Regions from separate parts of the Homo sapiens genome. Here region 1 is linked to region 2. The links come from fine-mapping of genetic effects on gene expression. Tissue or cell type: blood mononuclear cells. Region 2 holds a variant in brackets; the other region holds the start of a gene. All regions are shown on one strand. Distances are between the middles of the regions. Region 1 holds the start of SHISAL2A (shisa like 2A). Region 2 overlaps SHISAL2A (shisa like 2A).

Region 1 (2,500 bases), 25 kb before region 2:
AGAGGGCTGTTGGGAGGAACAAATTAATTCTTGGCTGGGAGAGGGTTTTGGAAATTGTTGGAGGCTTTCTAGTTTTGCCAAAAGCCAGGGCAGAGCGCTTTCTTCCTCCCAGCTGATCTCCAGGCCTCCAGGAAGCCTCTCCCTCCCAGAGGATTCCTCCCCTGTACTCTCCATCTGATAAAGAGGCTGAAGTGCACCCTCATTAGTGTAGGCTCTCCAGCTCCCAGTCTGCTCAGACCCACAGCTCAGGGGAGGAATGTTCTGGAGGATAATAACAGTTCCCTCCAGCTTTCATATTTGACCTTACAGTGACTCTTGAGGACACCGCCTCCCTCAGAGCCCTCCCCTGCTTCCTCAGATGGTGCCCCTCTGTGTCCAGGTCCTTGCATTTCCCTTTTTACTGCCCTGTGCTGTGATCGTCAGTCAGTCTGACTCCTCCATCAGACTGTGTGTTTCTCAACGGCAGGCCCAGATCTGATCCCTCTCAGGGGCCCTAGGGCCCACCCAGGTCAGGGCAGCGGCACAATCAGCATCTGAGGAGCTGGCCTGGGTGAGGACAAGGAACCCAAAGCTCAGAGAGAAACAGCAGGGAAGGGGTAGAGCTGGGCTGGAGCCCAGATCCCCTGATACCCACGGCCCGTTCCCCACACGTCCAAACCAAGGGCGAAGGAATCGGGGGTGCCCGAGGCACCACAGTAACTATTTCCTACCCTACCCACTGCTGTGAAAAATGTAGAGCTAAGGCACTGAAGGTGCTGTATGAAGCCCTTCCAGATGGCGTAAGGCAACAGGGTACATGGGGGAAGCCAAGGCACTGAGAGCCCCTTCAGACTGTGGTTCTCTGATGCTAGTGAGAACACTGCCCTTGTTCTCTGGAAGTAATTTTTCAAAATGGACAGGTCTGCTGACTTTCTTTGCTGGTCAGTGTGGGGAAGGAGGTTACCGTCTGGGCCCATCCACACCCATATTCGGCTCCTTGTCCCAGGCCAGTGGCAGGCAGTATGAACAGAAGAGTGTGGACATTGTCCGTGCACGAGCTAGCTCTCAGCGAGACTAGCAGGGACTCCAGATGATGAGGACATCTAAAAGCCCGCTAGAAAAGAGGCACCATGAAAGCCGCAGAAAGAGCAAGGACTTCCTACTAGGCCGCCCCCGGTTAAAATCTCGTGGGCTTAGGAACTCCGGGAAATGGCTTCTCTCTGGCCCTCAGCTCTCACCTTTAACACGGATGCGAACATCCCCGGGCCCCTGGGTTTTTGCGGAGGTTGGGTGAGGTTGTGTTCACTCTCCTCACTGACCCCGCCGTGTGGTCGCCGGCTGGTGCCTTGTCTGTCTGCCCCAGCCCCGAATGCCCCGAGACTCCCGGCGCCGGCTCGGTGCAGGTAAGGCGCCCGCGCCCTGGCCTCGAATTCCCGCCCCGCCACTCTGGCCGCGTCGTGCTGTCGTTGCGCACCCAGCGCCCTCGTGCAGGCAGGGGGAGCGCAGTGGGGAGGGGGCAGGAAGCGCAGGCAGAGCCAGGCGAGCACGCGGCTCCCGGCCCAGCTCCCCGCGTCCGCTCCGGCTCCTGCCGCGTTCCAGCAGCCGTCACTCCCGCCGCCGGCCCCCGCCGCCCGCCCCGCCTGCCCCTACCCCTCCGCGCGGGCCGGGCACCTGGCCGCCGCTCGGTCCTCGGGGCCCCGCGCTGCTGTCTCTGTCTCGGCTTCTCTCGGCCCCTGGGTCTCTTCGTCTCTGCCGTTCTCAGGCTCAGCTCCGTCTCGCTCGGTCCCTCGCTTCCCCGCCGGGCTCTAGCCGGCCGTCTGGTGGCCCGAGGTGGCGGCGGGCTGGGCGCGGGGCGCGATGAGCGGCGCCTGCACGAGCTACGTGAGCGCAGAGCAGGAGGTGGTGCGCGGCTTCAGCTGCCCGCGGCCGGGGGGCGAGGCGGCCGCTGTCTTCTGCTGCGGCTTCCGCGACCACAAGTACTGCTGCGACGACCCGCACAGCTTCTTCCCCTACGAGCACAGCTACATGTGGTGGCTCAGGTACCGTCCCTGGCCCTCACCCTACCTTGAACCCCACTCCAGTCTCAGCGCCTTCACCCCAGCCTCAGCCCCCACCCGAGTGTCCACCTGAACATCAGCAGCAAGCTCTAGTCCTTACCGTCCTCATGCCCACAGCATCAACCACCCCGTGAAACCCCATCTCAGCTCGATTTCCTCATCCTGACCCCAACCATTATTTAGAGCCATGCTCGGACCTCCCCCTCCTCTAATCCAAAACAATCCTCACTCTATCCCCACCCCAAACTTCATTCCATCACCACCCTCATCCCAACCCCAAATCACATATCAAGCCTCCCCCTAACAGCAACTTCCATCTTCAAACATTCACAGGCAGCCCAACTCCACCCCAATCATCATCCCACCAAGGTGCCCTTCCTAATATCAACACCAGCCTTATTCCTGACTTTCCACACTCCCCAGTACTGACCCCAGACCTTATTCTATCACCAGCCCCAACCTCC
Region 2 (3,014 bases):
TAGAAAGACAGAAATGTTCAATTGTGTCAAATGCTCCTGATTAAAAAAAGAAAAAGGAAAAAAGAATCAGAGTCCTATAACTGGTAAAGTAAAATTTAAAATAAATAAATAATGTTAAATGTTCCTGATAAGGGAGATAAGGATTTAGAAGTGACTATGGGTTTAGTGACAAATAGTTTGAAGGTATAGTGGGGGCAGAACAAAGTAAGTTGCAGCTGAACAAGTCATGAATGGAAGGTAGAGAATAATAAGGCCAAGTGGACTTCCTTTCAAGCTTTGATTTAAGAGGAAGAGAGAAGATAAGTCACTCAGCAAAGAGAAGCATGGAATCTATTCTCAAAGCGAGAACAATCTATGTTTTAAAAATGTCCACCACTCTTCTCCATACTAGCTGTATGGTAATCCTGTGTTCTCATCTATAAAATGGATTTCTAATAGTACCTACCTCATAGGGTTATGGTGAAGGTCAAGTCTTCATAGCTCTTAACAATTGTTTCTTATCTGTTTCCTCCACCAAACTACAAGTTCATGAGCAACACTGACAGCTCTCAGTGCATAATGTGGTGTATTGTTAATAAATACATGTTAAACAAATGATGCTTCTAAGGCTCTGACCACAGTGCACTGCCCAAGGTAAGCACCAGAGAAGTCAGCTGGGGAGTGTGATCCTGTTGGGGAAGAAGAGAGCCACACACCCTCAGTTTGCTGTTTTCCAGGCCCTGAGGAGGTTTCTCCTGACTGCCAAGGTGTGAACACAGGCATGGCGGCAGAAGTGCCAAAAGTGAGCCCTCTCCAGCAGAGTTACTCCTGCTTGAACCCGCAGCTGGAGAGCAATGAGGGGCAGGCTGTGAACTCCAAACGCCTCCTCCATCATTGCTTCATGGCCACAGTGACCACCAGTGACATTCCAGGCAGCCCTGAGGAAGCCTCTGTACCCAACCCTGACCTATGTGGACCAGTCCCATAAACATTCAATAAATGTCTCCATACCATCCCCTTCTGGAGTCTCTTCAGTGAAAGGTGGGAGTGGGAAAGGACTTTAGAGCCTAGCATGATAAATGAGGGCTTCTCCCAGCAAAGATACCCAGCCCTGCTGTGGACCCTGCCATACTGTTCTGCTTGGCCTATTGTGGGCCAAAGAACTTTGACATGACTCCTAGGAAAAATGGTCAGTAACAACTCCATGCAATCGGGTGGAAGCCTGGGGCCTGTGAAGGCACAGAGGAGCCCCTCACCCAACTGGGAAGTCAGAGAACTCTGACATGGTTTTCCTGCCCCACAGTAGGTGTATTTAGGAGCCCCTGAGAAGATGATTAGCCCTCAGAGGGGGATGATCTCTGCCTCTTCAGCAGCTCTGCCTCACCCTGGAGTGCGCCATCCTGGAGTAAGCCCCTTGCAGAGGGACGGATAGAGAGGGAGTATGTTGTGCACAGGGCTCAGGCGTCATTCTATTTCTTAGGTAGATGAAGGAGTGAGTGCTAAGTGAGAGAATGAATAGGGGCAGGGCGCGGCAGTTCA[C/T]GCCTGTAGTCCTAGAGCTTTGGGAGGACAAGGTGGATGGATCACTTGAGCCCACTTATTCAAGACCAGCTTGGGCAACACAGTGAGACCCAGACTCTACAAAAAATTTAAAAATTAGCCACATGTGGTGGCTTATACCTGTAGTTGCAGCTACTTGGGAGGCTGAAGCAGGAGAATCAGTTGAGCCCTGGAGGTCGAGGCTGCAGTGAGCTATGATCACACCACTGCACTCCAGCCTGGGCAAGACCTCATCACAAAAAAAGAAGAAGAATGAATGAATGAATGAATGGTTATCAGACTGAATACAGGCTCCAGAGGGTGGACTCTGCCACTGTGTGGCCTTGATAAAGTCCCTTGTCTTCCTGAGCCTCAGTCCCCTTGCTGGGTTATTGCAAGTGTTCAATGAGGTGATGGATTTGAACTCACTTCGTAAACATTAAATTACTAGAAGACTTTTTTTTTTTTTGAGACGGAGTTTTGCTCTGTCACTTAGGCTAGAGTGCAATGGCATGATCTCAGCTCAGTGCAACCTCCGCCTTCCGGGTTCAAGTGATCCTCCCACCTCAGCCTCCCAAGTAATTGGGACTACAGGTGTGTGCCACCATGCCTGGCTAATTTTTGTATTTTTAGTGGAGACGGGGTTTCACCATGTTGGCCAGGCTGGTCTTGAACTCCTGACCTCAAGTGATCCGCCTGCCTTGGCCTCCCAAAGTGCTGGGATTACAGATGTGAGCCACCACACCTGGCCTGTTAAAAGACTTTTTAAATGACCAATGGATGATAACATAGTATTCCTGCTAAAAGACTTTTTAAATTACAAATGGACAATAACAGTAAACTATGTAATACTGAACAACTCTGGAGCCAAATGCCTGGTTAAAATCCTGCCCCTGTCACTTACTTGCTAGGTAACCTCTGTGCCTCAGTCCTCTCATCTATATAAGCTGGAATCTTAGTAGTATCTTCTAATAGGGCTTGGGGAAGGACTAAATTACTAAGTCCATGCAAGTACATAGAAAAGTGTTGGCAAATGGAAAGCACTATGTGTTAGCTATTATTATTATTTTTAACATGTCTTATTATTAATCTGATCGCAAAGGAATCTTAGGGCAAGATGCTGACTGTCAGCCCTCCCTCCTGGCTGCTCTCCTAACTTTGGCGATGGCTTTTAGGCTTCGCCTTCGGAATGCAAGACAAGGACTGTGGAGACGCAGCTCAGCAGCCACCAAAAGCAGCTCTTGACATTTCAGACAGTGACATGACCTGCTGCTGGATTTGGCAACAGTGAAAGAGTCACTCTTAGATACCTGTGCCTGAGGCCAGCCAAAGGGTACATGATGGGGTGGCAAGACAGGGTGAGTCACCCACAGAAGTGTTCTAGGCTGGAAGTCAAGAGATTTTGGTTCTGGTCTTGCTTCATTTGTTGTTGTTGGTGGTGGTGGTGGTGGTGGTGTGTGTGTGTGTGTGTGTGCTCTTTTATTTCAGCATTTTTTTTT

Evidence for each region. PIP is the estimated chance that this variant, and not a neighbour inherited with it, causes the effect.
Region 1: SHISAL2A starts here. The variant in region 2 is the best candidate, but not a certain one, in a credible set for the expression of SHISAL2A in blood mononuclear cells (TOPMed, PIP 0.62).

What each region holds. Positions count from the first base shown.
Region 1 is chr1:52,631,658-52,634,157 of GRCh38, forward strand. It overlaps SHISAL2A (shisa like 2A), which reads left to right and starts at 1,511. Exons shown (of 3, transcript NM_001042693.3): 1 at 1,511-2,018. The coding sequence starts at 1,837. It overlaps LOC124904178 (a long non-coding RNA gene), which reads right to left and starts at 1,798. Exons shown (of 2, transcript XR_007066084.1): 1 at 1,651-1,798. RefSeq lists silencers at 1,389-1,498, 1,589-1,778, 1,789-1,838.
Region 2 is chr1:52,656,074-52,659,087 of GRCh38, forward strand. It overlaps SHISAL2A (shisa like 2A), which reads left to right. Exons shown (of 3, transcript NM_001042693.3): 3 at 717-992. The coding sequence ends at 967. Among named protein-coding and RNA genes, the nearest start is that of SHISAL2A, 24 kb to the left of the region's middle. The variant C/T (reference allele first, on the strand shown) is at 1,519.